Regions from separate parts of the Homo sapiens genome. Here region 2 is linked to region 1. The links come from fine-mapping of genetic effects on gene expression. Tissue or cell type: whole blood. Region 1 holds a variant in brackets; the other region holds the start of a gene. All regions are shown on one strand. Distances are from middle to middle.

The links. PIP is the estimated chance that this variant, and not a neighbour inherited with it, causes the effect.
Region 2: it holds the start of CMPK1, and the variant in region 1 is fine-mapped to the expression of CMPK1 in whole blood (INTERVAL, PIP 0.95).

What each region holds. Positions count from the first base shown.
Region 1 is chr1:47,264,921-47,272,920 of GRCh38, forward strand. It overlaps STIL (STIL centriolar assembly protein), which reads right to left. Exons shown (of 17, transcript NM_001048166.1): 13 at 7,156-7,321; 14 at 4,715-4,946. Among named protein-coding and RNA genes, the nearest start is that of TAL1, 37 kb to the left of the region's middle. The variant GAATT/G (reference allele first, on the strand shown) is at 3,130.
Region 2 is chr1:47,330,704-47,338,827 of GRCh38, forward strand. CMPK1 (cytidine/uridine monophosphate kinase 1) reads left to right here and starts at 3,087. Exons shown (of 6, transcript NM_016308.3): 1 at 3,087-3,413. The coding sequence starts at 3,243. RefSeq lists a silencer at 3,000-3,639 and enhancers at 3,026-3,829, 3,830-4,633, 4,150-4,209.

The sequences.
Region 1 (8,000 bases):
TTCTAAAGTTAAAAAAAAAAAAAAAAAGCCAAAACAAGGGCATGGTGGCTCACATCTTTAATCCCAGCACTTTGGGAGGCCGAGACAAGCAGATCACTTGAGGTCAGGAGTTCGAGACCAGCCTGGCCAACACGGTGAAACACCGTCTTCACTAAAAATACAAAAATTAGCTGGGTGTGGTGGCGTACACTTGTAATCCCAGCTACTTGAGAGGCTGAGGCAGAAGGATCTCCGGAACCCAGGAGGTGGAGGTTGCAGTGAACCAAGATCACACCACTGCACTCCAGCCTGAGCAACAGAGCAACACTCCATCTCCCAAAAAAAAAAAAAAAAAAAAAAACACAAGATTGGATATTTTTTAAAATTCCAATCTGAAAACCCCCATTATTCTAGAAAGTAGTCTGCAGTTTACAGAGTTAAGGAGAATAAATAAAGATCCCATGGTTTGCTCCTCTTTGTCCTCAGTTTCTATAATTATTCTAAATAAACTGCAGACCTACTTTGGGGCTCACCCCATGGGGAACCAGACACTGGGTCAAACTGTAGTTTTTTTTAATTACTTTTTTTGAAACAGAGTTGGCCGGGCATGGTGACTCACACCTGTAATCCCAGCACTTTGGGAGGCTGAGGCGGGCAGATCATCTGAGGTCAGGAGTTGGAGACCAGCCTGGCCAACATGGAGAAACCCCGTCTCTACTAAAAATACAAAACTTAGCCGGGCATAGTGGCAAGTGCCTGTAATCCTAGCTACTTGGCAGGCTGAGGCAGGAGAACTGCTTGTACCCGGGAGGCGGAGGGTGCAGTGAGCTGAGCTGAGATTGCGCCACTGCACTCCAACCTGGATGACAGAGCAAGACTGTCTCAAAAAAAAAAAAAAAAAAAAAAAGAAACAGTCTCTCTCTGTCACCCAGGCTGGAGTGCAGTGGCGTGATCACAGCTCACTGCAGACTCAACTTCCCAGGCTCCAGCAATCCTCCCACCTTAGCCTCCCGAACAGCTGGGACCAAGGGCTAATTTCTGTAATTTTGGTAGAGACAGGGTTTCGCCATGTTACCCAGGCTGGTCTCAAATACCTTAGCACAAGCAATCGGTTCACTTTGGCCTCCCAAAGTGCTAAGATTACAGGCATGAGCCACCAAGCCCAGCAAATTCTAAAAATATGGAAATTACTATGATCCTTACCCTGCAGGAACTCAATCTAACATACACAAAAGAGCTTTTCTGTATACTGTGGCACACACAATGAGTGCTTAATTTTATCATATGATTAAAACATATACTATACTAAAAGGAGATGTTTCTCTGTAGTTTTCTGAAGGGACATGTTTATTGTCTTAACCATTATTGTAATCACAATGATTTAAAATGTCAAATATCACAAGGCTTATTAATTTCTAAAAAGTAATCCACTGCCTGCCCCATGTCACCTTACCAGTTCACCTTTTTTTATTTTTAGAAATGGAGTCTCACTCTGTTATTGAAGCCAGAGTACAATGGCACTTATCATAGATCACTGCAACCTCAAACTTCTGGTCTCAAGCGATCCTCCTGTTTCAGCCTCCTGAGTAGGTGGAACTACTACAGGCACATACCACCACACCCAGCTAAGTTAAAATATTTTTTTATAGAGACAGGGTCTCACTATTTTGCCTAGCCTGGTCTTGAATTTCAAATTAACCTCTTTAAACTGTTTCATGTGCTATTATCCTGGGATGTTTTATACCTACATTTTTCTTTTACCTTCAAAATTTATCCTACACCTGATCCCTTCCACGAATTCCACAAGTCCAAGACATCTTCATCTCACTTGGTCTTTAGTTTATTAATCAGTTAGTATCTTAACTTCCACTCTTAACATCCTTCAGTTCTCCACGAAACAATTAGAATGGTCTTCAAAAAATGAAAATCAGATCATAACACTCCATTATCTAAAATCCTCCACTAGCTTTAATGAGCATGCAATAAATTAAAAAATCTTTTCTATATCCTACAAAGCCCCATATAACTTGGCTCCTGCCTGTATCTCAGACTTCATTTCCTATACTCTCCCTCTCAATCACTATGTCCAGCCACACTGGCTTTCATGCTTTTTTCTGTAACTTTTAAACCCACACTTGCCATTACACTTGCTTTTTCCTCCACTTGGAATACTCATCCCCAGATATTATCATGACTGGCTCCTTCTCATCATTCAGGTCACTACTCAAATGTCACCCCCTCACAGAGATGGTTTCCTTTACCACTCTACTTAATATAACACCTTGTTCCCAGGTTACCATCCCAGTTACACTCCACTTGATCACTCTAGTTTACTTTTTCAGAGCAGTTGTCACTATCTGAAACTATGTTATTTGCTGCTCATGTGGTTAAATTCCATAAAGTTAGGAGCTTTGCCTAACCTAGTATTTGATATTTAGTGTCTAGTTTTGTGGTAGCACGTACCAGAAACTCAAATATTTGCTGAGTTTGTTTCCAAATTTGCTGAGGATATAAATTACTTTAGGCCAGGTGCAGTGGCTCATACCAGTAATCCCAACAATTTGAAAGGCCGAGGCAGGTGGCTAACCTGAGGTCAGGAGTTCAAGACCACCCTGGCTAACATGGCAAAACCCTGTCTCTACTAAAAACACAAAAATTAGCCAGGTGTGGTGGCCCGTGCCTGTAGTCCCAGCTACTTGGGAGGCTGAGGTTGCAGTGAGCCAAGATCACGCCACCGTACTCCAGCCAGGGCGACAGAGCGAGTATCTAAAAAAAAAAAAAAAAAAAAAAATTTACTTTAGAATCCGTTTTTTGTTTTGTTTTGTTTTGAGACTTAGTCTTGCTCTGTCACCCAGGCTGGAATGCAGTGGCGCAATCTCGGCTCACTGCAACCTCCACCTCCCAGGTTCAGGCAATTCTCCTGCCTCAGCCTCCCAAGTACCTGGGACTACATGTGTGCACCACCGTGCCCAGTTACAGGTAAGAGTCACTGAGCCTAGCCTACGATCCTTATTTAATGGAAAATTTCATAATGAAAAATTTCAAACATGAGAGAATTATTTTACAAATCACCATATACAATCAGTTTCAAAAATTACCAAATAGCCAATCTTATTTCATTTATACTCCTAGCCATTTCATTCTCCCACA[GAATT/G]AATTTGAAGCAAATCTCAGATAACATTTCATATATAAATATTAAGGTTCTATCACTCAAAAATAGACTCTTTTATATATAATGGCAATACGGAGAATCTTTAGAAATCTCGCCATCTCACAGTGGCTCATGCCTATAATCCCAGCACTTTGGAAGGCTGAGGCAGGCGGATCACCTCAGGTGAGGAGTTCCAGATCAGCCTGGCCAACATGGGAAGCCCCATCTCTACTAAAAATACAAAAATTAGCTGGGCGTGGTGGCGCACGCCTGTAATCCCAGCTGCTTGGGAGGCTGAGGCTCAAGAATGCCTTGAACCTGGGAGGCAGAGGTTGCAGTGAGCCAAGACAGTGCCATTGCACTCCAGCCTGGGTGAAAAAGCGAGACTCTTGTCTCAAAAAATAAATACATAAAATAAAATAGGCTGGGCACAGTGGCTCATGCCTGTAATTCCAGCACTTTAGGAGGTCAAGGTGGGTGGATCACCTGAGGTCAGGAGTTCACGACCAGCCTGGCCAACACGGCGAAACCCCATCTCTAAAAAAAATACAAACAAAATTAGCCCAGCATGGTGGCAGGTGTCTGTAATCCCAGCTACTCAGGAGGCTGAGGCAGGAGAATCACTTGAACCCAGGAGGCAGGGATTGCAGTGAGTCAAGATCGCACCATTGCACTCTAGACTGAGCAACAAGAGAGAAACTCCATCTCATAAATAAATAAATAAATAAATAAATAAATAAATTAAATAAAAGAAATTTCTCCGCCAGGTGTGGTGGCTCACGCCTGTAATCCCAGCACTTTGGGAGGCCGAGGCAGGCAGATCACGAGGTCAGGAGATCGAGGCCATCCTGGCTAACATGGTGAAACCCCATCTCTACTAAAAATACAAACACGGAATTAGCCGGGCATGGTGGCAGGAGCCTGTAGTCCCAGCTACACGGGAGGCAGGAGAATGGCGTGAACCCGGGAGGTGGAGATTGCAGTGAGCCGAGATTGCACCACTGCACTCCAGCCTGGGCAACAGAGCGGGACTCCGTCAAAAAAAAAAAAAAAAAAATTTCTCCATCTGTATCTGGAACCTAATATTATCAGATCCTCTAGGGTGAGGCCTGAGCTTGTGTATTTTTGAAGTTTTCTTCCGATTTCTGATTCATCCAGACTGTTAATATAGCCAAAGACTGACATCTGGAAATGGTTCTAGAAGGCTCAGAGTTGTCAGTTACATAGAAATCATATCAAGTAAAGACATAAAAGAAAATACCAGTTAGAAAATATATCATTTCTGAGTTAGAAGACTTTAAAGAAATTAGAATTAAAAACAAAAAAAAACCTGAACAGAACAGCAACTGTAATGAATAATAATACATTGTATATTTCAAAATTGCTAATAGTAGACTTCAAATGTTTTTACCACAGAAAAAGTTAAGTATGTGAAGTGATAGATTTGTTGGTCTGATTTAATCATTCCATACTGTAAACATGCATCTAAACATTGTGCCCCACAAATATATACAATTATTATTTGTCTATCAAAAAAAATTTTTTTTGAAAGTAGGATGAAAGACTAAATCAAAGAGACCTTACTTGGATACAGAAAGTGGCTGGTTAAATTCTTCTTCCACAGCAATGTTGCTCTCTTCAAAACTGGGAATATCAACTGCTTTTAATGAAGATGCACTACCTGGAAGACTTGTGACTTCATTATTAATATCGACAGAAAAATTCATGTCCTCACTGGAAATTTTGGTATCATCTTGCTTCATTTGAGAGTCAGGCTCTTGATCCTCACCTGCTGCATTCCAAAACAAGCTAGCACCTGGAGGTTAAATAATTTAAGATACTGAAACAAACATTCAACTTTAAAAATAATACTCTGCCAAACCTTTGTTAAGAATAGCCATATTGGCTGGGTGCAATGGCTCACGCCTATAATCCCAACACTTTGAGAGGCAGAGGCGGGAGGATCACTTGAGCTCAGGAGTTCGAGACCAGCCTGGGCAACATGGAGAAATCCTGTCTCTACAAAAAAAATACAAAAAAATTAGCCAGGTGTGGTGGTGTGCCTGTAGTCCCATCTACTCAGGAGGCAGAGGTGTAAGATCACTTGAGCCCAGGAGGTCGATGCTGCAATGAGCTGTGATTGTGCTACTGCATTCCAGCCTGGGCAACTCTGGCTCAAAAAAAAAAAAAAATATATATATATATACACACACACACACACACACACACACACACACACACACAATTACTTAGAACTAAGTTTTTAGATTATATTTCCTCAGAAATGCCAGGAAGAGGTAGGTGGAAGACAGAAAGACAAAACACTAGGGGACGGGTCGGGTGGAAGGGCACATTCTGGGTTCTGCTTTTTCAAGAAGGGTGGCTCTGAAATGATTTGCTTTACATATTAAGATTCTGAATATGATCCGTGGGATGGGGTGTGTATGTTGAAAACTGCTGCTCTGAATAATATGAGATAATATATAAAATACAAATCCCTAGGTTCTCTGGTTTTGACACTTAAATGCAATATTTAAAAGACTACATTGGTGATGCATCAGACATCTGTAATATCTGTAATATCAGGCAGGTATTAAAAAAAATCAAGTGTTTCCCAATCTTTTTTTTTTTTTTTTTTTTTTTTTAAGACAGGGTGTCACTTTGTTGCTCAGGCTGGAGTGCAGTGACACAATCACAGCTCACTGCAGCCTCAACGTCCCTGGGCTCAGGTGATCCTCCCACCTCAGCTTCCCGAGTAGCTGGGACTGCAGGTGTGCGCCACCATATGTGGCTAATTTTTGTATTTTTTTTAAAGATGGGGCTTCATCATTTTGACCAGGCTGGTCTCGAACTCCTAGCATCAGGCAATCCACCTGCCTTGACCTCCCAAAGTGCAAACATTATAGGCATGAGCCACTGCGCCCAGCCAATTTCTCAATCTTTATGAAGCACTTACACCTATCTTCAGAGCTATTTGCATGTAATATTGTTTACTTACTCTTTCTTTAAATTAACTCTTTTTTTACTGAGCCTCATTATTTCTCTAAAATCACAGATTTGATATGCTTATTGTATTTATACCTATGAGTATTGGAAAAGATATATTTACAAAATATAAATATTAATCTGTATAACACCCTAAATCATCTTTTGTACCACGAGCCATAGGCATTCTATAATTTGGGGAATATTGCTAATACATAATGGTTTAAACAGATGGTTAAAACCAAAAAGTAGCCTGGGCACAGTGGCTCATGCCTGTAATACAATCCCAGCCCTTTGGGAGGCTGAGGTGGGTGGATCATGCGGTCAGGAGTTGGAGACCAGCCTGACCAACATAGTGAAACCCCATCTCTACTAAAAATACAAAAATTAGCCAGGTGTGGTGGCAGGCGCTTGTAGTCCCAGCTACTCAGGAAAATCACTTGAACCCAGGAGGCGGAGGTTGCAGTGAGCCGAGACTATGCCATTGCACTCCAGCCTGTGTGACGGAGTGAGACTCCGTCTCAAAAAAAAAAAAAAAAAAAAGTAAATCATAGTCAAAATGGTTTCTACTCTGAGGATATACTTGGGTGATTTTATGAAAATAAATTAATACAAACAAGACTGGCTGGACGCGGTGGCTCACGCCTGTAATCCCAACACTTTGGGAGGCTGAGACAGGAGGATTGCTTGAACCTAGGATGGTGGAGGTTGCAGTGAGCTGAGAGTGCACCACACTGCACTCTAGCTTGGGCAACACAGCGAGACTCCATTTCAAAAAAAAAAACAAAAAACAAAAAAAAAACCAGAATTGGGTCCAGCCTAGAAAAGTAGCAAAATCAAACACTTTATCATGTTATGCAGTTTGCAGGTGTAGTTTTATTTCACAAAGACTAAAATCACACAAAAACTTAAGTCATACTCTCATCACCTTGGTTTTGGTCCTACTGCACCATGCACCAATTTGAACATAAAATTCAAAAACCAGATATGAAAAGCATTTTTAACAATTTCCTTACAAATTAAAAAAAAACTGAAATTACCTGTGCTCACAGCAATGCTTACACCTTTTCTCATGTGCAAGCCAGGGGAAGACTGTGCTTCCACAGAAACCAACTCCATTTGTCTTCCAGCTTGCACTGTGTCTTCAACAGCAGTTGTCTTAGGGGAACAGGGCATCAGAGACTGTGCTTCCAACAAACGCTGAATCTGTATCAATTAAAAACATACTTTAAACTGACAGGGAAGTAATCAACAAAACTGGCAGCAGTTTAATAATGAATTACAAAGCGCCCTAATTATAAGAAACTGACTTTTAAGTCTATTTTCTCAAATTTCAACTAGACCATACCATGAAACTTATTCAATATAGAAAGCCATTATCACTAGTTATTAAGAAGCACTTTAAGTATACTATTTTTTTTTTTTTTTGAGACAAGGTCTTGCTCTGTCACCCAGGCTGTCACCCAGCCGTGGTGCAATCATGGCTTATTGCAGCCTCAACCTCCTGGGCTCAATCGATCCTCCCACCTCAGCCTCCTGGGGTGGCTGGGATGACAGCCATGCACCACCATGCCTGGTTAATTTTCACATGTTTTGTAGAGATGGGGTTTTGCCATGTTGCCCAGGCTGTTCTCAAACTCCTGGGCTCAAGCAATCTGCCCACCTCAGCCTTTAAGTATACATTTAAAAGCAATACATAAAGGTGTTTAGCTTAGTATTCGTAAGTTGATACTCATGTAAAAAAGTGTGAATGGTTAATACTTCAAACTAACATTATATTCCTATTTCACTTATAAATCAAAAGTTAGATTGGAGGTATACTCTGACTCTCTGACTCCATATACCAAATACTGAACATATCACACAAGATTATTATAAAGGTAAA
Region 2 (8,124 bases), 66 kb after region 1:
GTGTGAACAAAGGAAAAGAAGACACATTTGTTTTGATATGGCCTTTTTCATACTCCTGCTACCCATTCCCAATATGACCAATTGTCCTTGTTCTTGGCTGCCCATGTCCTAGCTCCTCCTCCCCAGAAGCTGAAGGGTTTGGAGCCTTCTTTTTTTTGAGACAGAGTCTTGCTCTGTCGCCAGGCTGGAGTGCAGTGGTGCGATCTCAGCTCACTGCAACCTCCACCTCCTGGGTTCAAGCAATTCTCCTGCCTCAGCCTCCCAAGTAGCTGGGATTACAGGCATGCACCACCACATCCAGCTAATTTTGTATTTTTAGTAGAACTGGGGTTTCACCGTGTTAGCCAAGCTGGTTTCCAACCTCAGGTGATCTGCCCACCTTGGCCTCGCAAAGTGCTGGGATTACATGCATGAGCCGCTGCGCCCGGCCGTGTTTTTTTATGTGAAAATTCACATATCTAAACGTGGGTCCCTGTTTTTGTATAGCCTTCAAGCTCAAAATAATGTTCACATTTTAAAATGGATTTTAAAAATAAAAATAAATAATATTTTGGGACACATGCAAATTATATAAATTCAAATTTCAGTATCCATAGAAAAATGTTTTGTTTTTGTTTTGAGACAGGGTCTGGCTCTGTTGCCCAGGTTAGAATGTAGTAGCACGATCTTGGCTCACTGGAGTTTGCACCTCCTAGGCTCAAGGGCTGCTCCCACCTCAGCCTCCACCTCCTGGGCTCAAGGGATCCTCCCACCTCAGCCTCCCATCTCAGCCTTCCGAGCATCTGGGACTACAGGTGCACACCACCACCTGTAGTGTAGTGTAGGCCTGGCTGGGCGCGGTGGCTCATGCCTGCAATCCCAGCACTTTGGGAGGCCAAGGCAGGAGGATCACTTGAGCCCAGGAGTTCAAGACCAGCCTGGACAACATGGTGAAACCCCCTCTCTACTAAAAATACAAAAATTAACCAGGGGTGGTGGCAGGTGCCTGTAATCCCAGCTACTTGGGAGGCTGAGGCAGAAGAATCGCTTGAACCTGGGAGGTGGAGGTTGCAGTGAGCCAAGATGGCACCACTGCATTCCAGCGTGGGTGACAGAGTGAGACTCTATCCCCCCCAAAAAAATTTTTTTCCAGCTGTGATAATAAAAAATATCCCATTCTCCTTTCTATGGTGGGAAGGAAAAGGTAGAAGTTGTGGAGAGGAAAGAGGTAGAAATTAAAGGGAGAATGGAAAAGAAGGGCAAACAAAGGCAAGTAGGTGAGGAGAAGGACAGGAAAAGAGACAGGGAGAAGGGAGGGACTTATAAATGGGAAAAGAAGGGTAGGAAGGATGGGAATAAGTAAAAACAACAACAACAAAAAGAAAGCAAGGAGAGAGAGTAGAGATGGGGAAGAGCCAGAAAATGCTGAGTGAGCTAAGAAAGGACCACCAAAAGAAAAAGGAGAATGGGGGTGGTCAGACAGAGGGCTATACCACTATCTTCCTCTCCTGTTTGCTTTCGTTTACTAACGTCCTGGTCACTCTGCCCTAAACAGCTTAGTTCCTTTCCCATAGTCTTTGTTCACTCCAGCACTATCTGACTTGAACTTGTACCTGTACGACAAATCTAACACCCTGGACTCTTAGTTCTAAAAACAGGACATGCATTCTGCCTCAGTCTTCCATTCCCATGGTCTCACCCTGGACCTTGGCATCATCAGAAACTCAGAAGCTGGGACATTTCAATTCCAAATATCCCACTCAGACCAGCAGCATCCATACTGCCAGAGCACTTGCTCATATACCCCACTGCAATCTTTCTTGGGCCAATGCTCTAAGACATTGGTCCCTTTCCCCACCACCCTCCAACCCCTCCACTACCAGGCTTCATGTGCCATTATTTGCTTTCCTGTATGGTTTTGATTCTACACACAGCATCATGAACATTCTCTTCCAAACACTCTCATCACTTGGCCCCCTCTCTCTGTTGTACTTGCCAGGCAAAATCCCAACCCTCAGTAAATGCAACAAGCTGCCTTCTCTGCCTGTGCCTGAATGGCCAAACATCTTCAATTATTTTGAATCCGTTACCTCAAATATCAAATGAGCTCTTAACGTTGGCCAGAAGGCCTTTTAAAGGCCTGTATGCACCAAGGCTCAGTTCTTGAACGTCTCCTTTTCTTCTCCCTTAAGATTCTTCCCTAATGAAGGGGGCAGGCGAACGGAGTTAAAGGGCTTCCATTGCTGTTAGAATACAGCCCAAATTCCTTTCCATAATCAAAAGTCCTGATCTGCCACCGACCTCACTTTCTCAACTTTTCACCTTCCATTCTCCCCTCATTTGACTCAGCCCTGGTCTCACTGTCACTGGCCTTTTTTCCTTTTTTTTTTTTGAAGCAGTCTCATTGTCACCTAGGCAGGAGTGCAGTGGTGCTATTACGGCTCCTAGGCTCAAGTGAACATCCCAGTAGCTGGGATCACAGGCACGGGTCACGGTGCCCGGCTTTTAAATTTTTGGTCGAGACGGGGTCTCGTCATGTTGTCCAGGCTGGTCTCGAACTCCTGGGCTCAAGCCATCCTCCTGCCTCAGCCTCCCAAAATGCTGGGATTACAGGCGTGAGCCACCGCGCCCAGCCAGGCCTTCCTTCAATTGCTTTAACATGCCAAACCAACTTAGATTTTTTGCACATGCTTTTCTCTGTGGGACACTCTATCCTGGTGTTTGCCTGGTTTCGCTCTTTTCTATCCTTTTGTCTTGGCTTGAATGTCACCTCTTCTGAAGCCTTCTCTGGCGACCCTGGCCATCTTATGTCCTACTTGTTATTTCTTCAAAATCGTACTGCCTTTTGTATGTACTGGTGTTTACTCATTCACACTGGCTACCTCCCCATACCTCACTGGCTGGAATGGAAACTCATTGCGAGCAGAGACAATAGGTTTTGCTCTCCCGCGGATCACGTCCCAGCCTCCAGCTCAGCACCAGACACTTGAGGGCGCAGGATAAAATATCTGCAGTCAGAAAGCACTAATAACCACCCAAGGGTTGGAGGAAAGCTGGCGCGGACCGCACGAGTGTCGCCGAGACGCCGCCGCCGTGCGAAGCTCCTCCCCTTCCGACAGGGCCGCGGACGCCCGGGCAGCCACGGCGGCGGGGCCGCGGCGGGCGCCGGCTCAGCCCGCCCCTTTCTCCCGCCGCCTCCCCGCCCCGCCCCGCGCCGCGCCGGCCGCTGTCAGCTCCCTCAGCGTCCGGCCGAGGCGCGGTGTATGCTGAGCCGCTGCCGCAGCGGGCTGCTCCACGTCCTGGGCCTTAGCTTCCTGCTGCAGACCCGCCGGCCGATTCTCCTCTGCTCTCCACGTCTCATGAAGCCGCTGGTCGTGTTCGTCCTCGGCGGCCCCGGCGCCGGCAAGGGGACCCAGTGCGCCCGCATCGTCGAGGTGAGGCCCGGGCAGCAGGCGGGCTCCTTGGGGCTTGACGGGATGCGGGCCGGCCTGTCCCGCCGCCCCTAGTCCGCGCCCCGCGGAGTCGCCGAGCCGCAGACTACGAGTCCCGGCGGCCACCGCGCCGCCCGCGTGGCAGTGGCCGAGGGCCGCCGGCGCGCGGCGTGCCGGGACTTGTAGTCCGCGCCCGCCCGCCTTGGGGGCCACCGCTTGAGGTCGCTTTGTTCCTGCGCCCCTTCTTTTCTTACATTTTGGGGACCAGATTCGTCTCTAGAGTGGGCTGGGAGAGGGATCCCGGAGGCCAACCTTTGGGGGTCCCCCAGCGCGCAGAGGTTAGCGTGTCGCTGATCGTGTGGCAGGTGAAGGCAGCAGGAGCGCGGATTTGGGTTAGAGGCCGTGTGCGCCCACAGTTGTCTGAAGGAGAGACCTATTTTTCTTCTCCGCGCCTTCCCTCTGGTTCCCTAAACTCCGCACTGTCACCGAACGTGTCTTTACTCTAGAAAGGAGGCCCGTGGGGCGGGGTGTTATTTTAGGCGTGCTGTGGGCTGCCGCTGGCACTCTCGAGCCCCGTCCCCGCAAGCTTTAGGGCGGAGCCAGCCCTGAGGCTCGGCCCGGGTCGGGGATGGGGAAAGCCGGGAGTGCTGTTCTGAGATCAAGCTTCAACCTTTGGCCCTGCTGCCAACTCACGCTCGGCCCTCGGTCACTTCCTGTCTCCCAGCCTCAGTTAGCCCTTGTAATACAGTAAAAAGAGTCTCTGAACCCAGATTTTCTCAGGATATAAAACACCTCCCAAATGTAAAATGCTGTTACTTTTTTTTCTTTTGCTTTGAGACAGGTTACCAGTTCAATTCTTTTAACAATTTTTGAGCTAGATGTATGGTTGGTTAGCTGCATTGACACTGTGGGAAAAAAAGGCTTCATGGACAATCTGGGGAATGCTTGGGAAAGAAGGAAAACAGGATATCTAGAAACAGAAGAGGCGACCATTGGTGGCCTCTAGTGAAATCACTCTGAAACCCTGTAACCAACAAAAGTTTTTTTGACCTAGAACTTATAATTTCCTCCTCTTCTAGGATATGGCCAATATTAGCATGGGGCTTTTGCTTCTCTCCTTATATGTTCATAACAATCAACTCCTGTCCTGTATTTTATTCCCTAAATAGCATCCAGAGAAAGTTAGATGAGTTCAACAAGTCATTATGTGTTGGACAGATGTATTTATAAATATTGATCATTTTGCCAGGCGCTGTGGCTCACTCCTGTAATCCCAGCACTTTGGGAGGCCGAGGCTGGCGGATCACGAGGTCAGGAGTTCGAGACCAGCCTGGCTAACATGGCGAAACGTTGTCTTTACTAAAAATACAAAAATTAGCCTGGCGTGGTGGCGGGCGCCTGTAATCCCAGCTACTCCGAAGGCTGAGGCAGGAGAATCGCTTGAAACCGGAAGGCGGAGGTTGCGGTGAGCCCATATCGCGCCACTGCACACTAGCCTGGGCGAAAGAGTGAAACTCCGTCTCAAAAAAAAAAAAAAAAAAAAAATCATTTTAGGTGTCAAAGTGGAACTAGTCCAACTAAAAAAATACATAACATTTACATCCTCTTAAAAAAATTTTTTTTTGTTGGTTCTCTTTCTTTTGTTGTTTTTTTGTTTTTGTTTTTGTTTTTGTGACAGTCTCACTCCGTCACCAGGCTGGAGTGCGGTGGTGCGATCTCAGCACACTGCAACCTCCGCCTCCCAGGTTCAAGCGATTTTCCTGCCTCAGCCTCTGCATAGCTGGGATTACAGGCGTGCGCCACCACGCCTGGCTAATTTTTGTATTTTTGGTAGAGACAGGGTTTCACCATGTTGGCCAGGCTGATCTCGAACTCTTGACCTCGTGATCTGCCCGCCTCAGCCTCCCAAAGTGCTGGGATTATAGGCATGAGCCACCGTGCCTGGCCTTGTCACTTGTCTTTTAAAAAGTAAAGAGACTGGCTGCTGCACTCCAGCCTGGGCGACAGAGCGAGACTCCGTCTCAGAAATAAATAAATAAATAAATAAATGGCAAGTGAAAAGTGGGAGTGATTTCAAATTTTTGTTTAGTATATGTGATCTTTCTTAAATAGCATGATGGGGGAAGGGGCAAAGACTTTAGAGTCAAAGAGATATAGGTTCAAACCCTGACTCTGCCATTTACTGTTTCTCTAGGCCCAGAGATGTTGTTGCCTTTAGTTCCCTGTGAAAAGGGAAAACATAGAAATGGCTGTTTTGTATGGTATTTGTGAATATTAAATGAGGTAAAATATCTGGCACACAGAGACAGATGCAGATAGTTTTTTTCTCCACTTTAAACTTCTGATCTTATTACCTCTACTTTAAACTTCCTGATCTTATTATATTGGTTATTTTTATTGGTGGGTTTTGTTGTTGTTGTTTGTTTTGAGATCGAGTCTCTCTGTGTCACCCAGGCTGGAGTGCTGTGGTACCATCTTGGCCCACTCCAACCTCTGCCTCCTGGGCTCAAGCCATCCTCTCACCTCAGTCTCCCAAGTAGCTGGGATGACAGGTGTGCACTGCCACTCTCTGCTAACTTTTTTTCAGGTTTTTGTAGAAACCAGGGCTCACTATATTGCCCAGGCTGGTCTCGAACTCCCAGACTCAAGGGATCTTACTGCCTTGGCTTCTCAAAGTGTTGGCATTACAGGCATGAGCCGCCATGCCTGGCCTGGTTATTTTTATTGCAAAATAGTATTTTTCTTTTAAATTACTTTATGCGTGTTATATTTGAATGCATTTAAATACAGTATGCTGTTTCTGAATCATAATATGCCTTTAAAATATCTGTACCTAAATTAATAATACCCATACTACTACACTGGTTAAAAAATAATCTACACATTCAGGGCTGGGCGCAGTAGCTCACGCCTGTAATCCCAGCAGTTTGGGAGGCCCAGGCGGGTGGATCACGAGGTCAGGAGATTGAGACCATCCTGGCTAACAAGGTGAAACCCCATCTCTACTAAAAATACAAAAATTAGCCGGGCGTGGTGGCAGGCGCCTGTAGTCCCAGCTACTTGGGAGGCTGAGGCAGGAGAATGGCATGAACCGGGGAGGCGGAGCTTGCAGTGAGCCAAGATCACGCCACTGCAGTGCAGCCTGGGTGACATAGCGAGATTCCATCTCAAAAAAATAAAATAAATAAATAAATAAATACATAAATGAAATAATCTACACATTCTGCAATTATTCTTTATTCTGTTCAGTAATGGCAAATAATATTTTAAACTTGTTAATTATCAGTTACAAGATTCCATGATGAGATATGTTCTGTAATGTATTATATTATTAAGATTTCAACAATTATTTGACCTTAAACTGTTATCTTCTTTAATGAAAAGTATTCTCTTGAGTCTAGTTGCCATAAACTTTATTAAGCTGTCAATCAACTAATTCCAAATAGTTTATAATTTAGCAATTGCTATTCCCTAGCTGGCTAGACAGACACTGGAATATCTATTTTTTTTTTTTTTTTGAGACGAAGTGTCACGCTGTCGGCCAGGCTGGTGTGCAGTGGGGCAATCTTGGCTCGCTGCAGCCTCCATCTTCTGGATTCAAGCGATTCTCTGCCTCAGCCTCCCGAGTAGCTTGGACTACAGGTGCGCGCCACCATGCCCGGCTAATTTTTGTATTTTTAGTAGAGACGGGGTTTCACTATGTTGGCCAGGCTGGTCTCGAACTCCTGACCTCGTGATCCACCCACCTTGGCCTCCCAAAGTGCTGGGATTACAGGTGTGAGCCACTGTGCCCGGCCTGGAATATCTATTGTTAGTGAAGTCAGCGGTATGTTGTTTTTTTCCTTTGTGAATCTCTTTATTTTGACTCAATATTTTTTTATACAGGCAATTATAAACTAAATTCCAAAATAATGTAAGTTTTGGAGGTTTTTTTCCTGTAGGAAAAAAATTACATAAATCCACGGTAAATTCTCCAATTAATCTGGCTGAAGCTAATGCAGCTCACAGGGCACCTGAAATTGTTACTTTAGTATGTTGATTTCCAACTCAGGCTGCCAGAAGTACATATTTGAGTCCTAGCTACAGAATCTTCAGTTGACAGGAAGAGAAGAAAAAGAGAAAACCAAAAACCCTTAGGGATATCTTGCTCTCTAAGGCACTGAAATTAGTGAAGTGGGTATTGTTAGAGGGAAGCTGGTATTTTTTCTCTGGAGGTGAATTCTGCTCTGCAAATTGCTCCTGGAGACCTAGAGAAGGTAAAGGCAAATCTGATACAGTGTCTTCTGAGAGTGTTCTGTACTGGGAAGGAAAGATTGGAGGGAGGTTTTGGGATTGATTTTGCACATTTATTTGTACTGATGTTTTTCAGTTTTGTTTGCTTTTCTCCTTCCTTCCTTCCTTCCCTCCCTCCCTCCCTCTCTCCTTCCCTCCCTCCCTCTCTCCTTCCCTCCCTCCCTCTCTCCTTCCCTCCCTCCCTCCTTCCTGTTCTTTCTTTTTCTTCTTTTCTTTTTTTTTTACCAAATACCCAGACTTGGAGAATTTGTTTTATTTTCTAATTGTTTGTAAATCTGTATCCTCTAATACTGAATTTGTTTTTGAAAATGAGCTATTTTCTAAATCAGTGTGATACTTAGAGTTAAGTTTCCAGAATGGAATTATTGTGCAATAATTTAGTTATAAAATCATGATGGGAATACTGTGTCATTCTTGAATT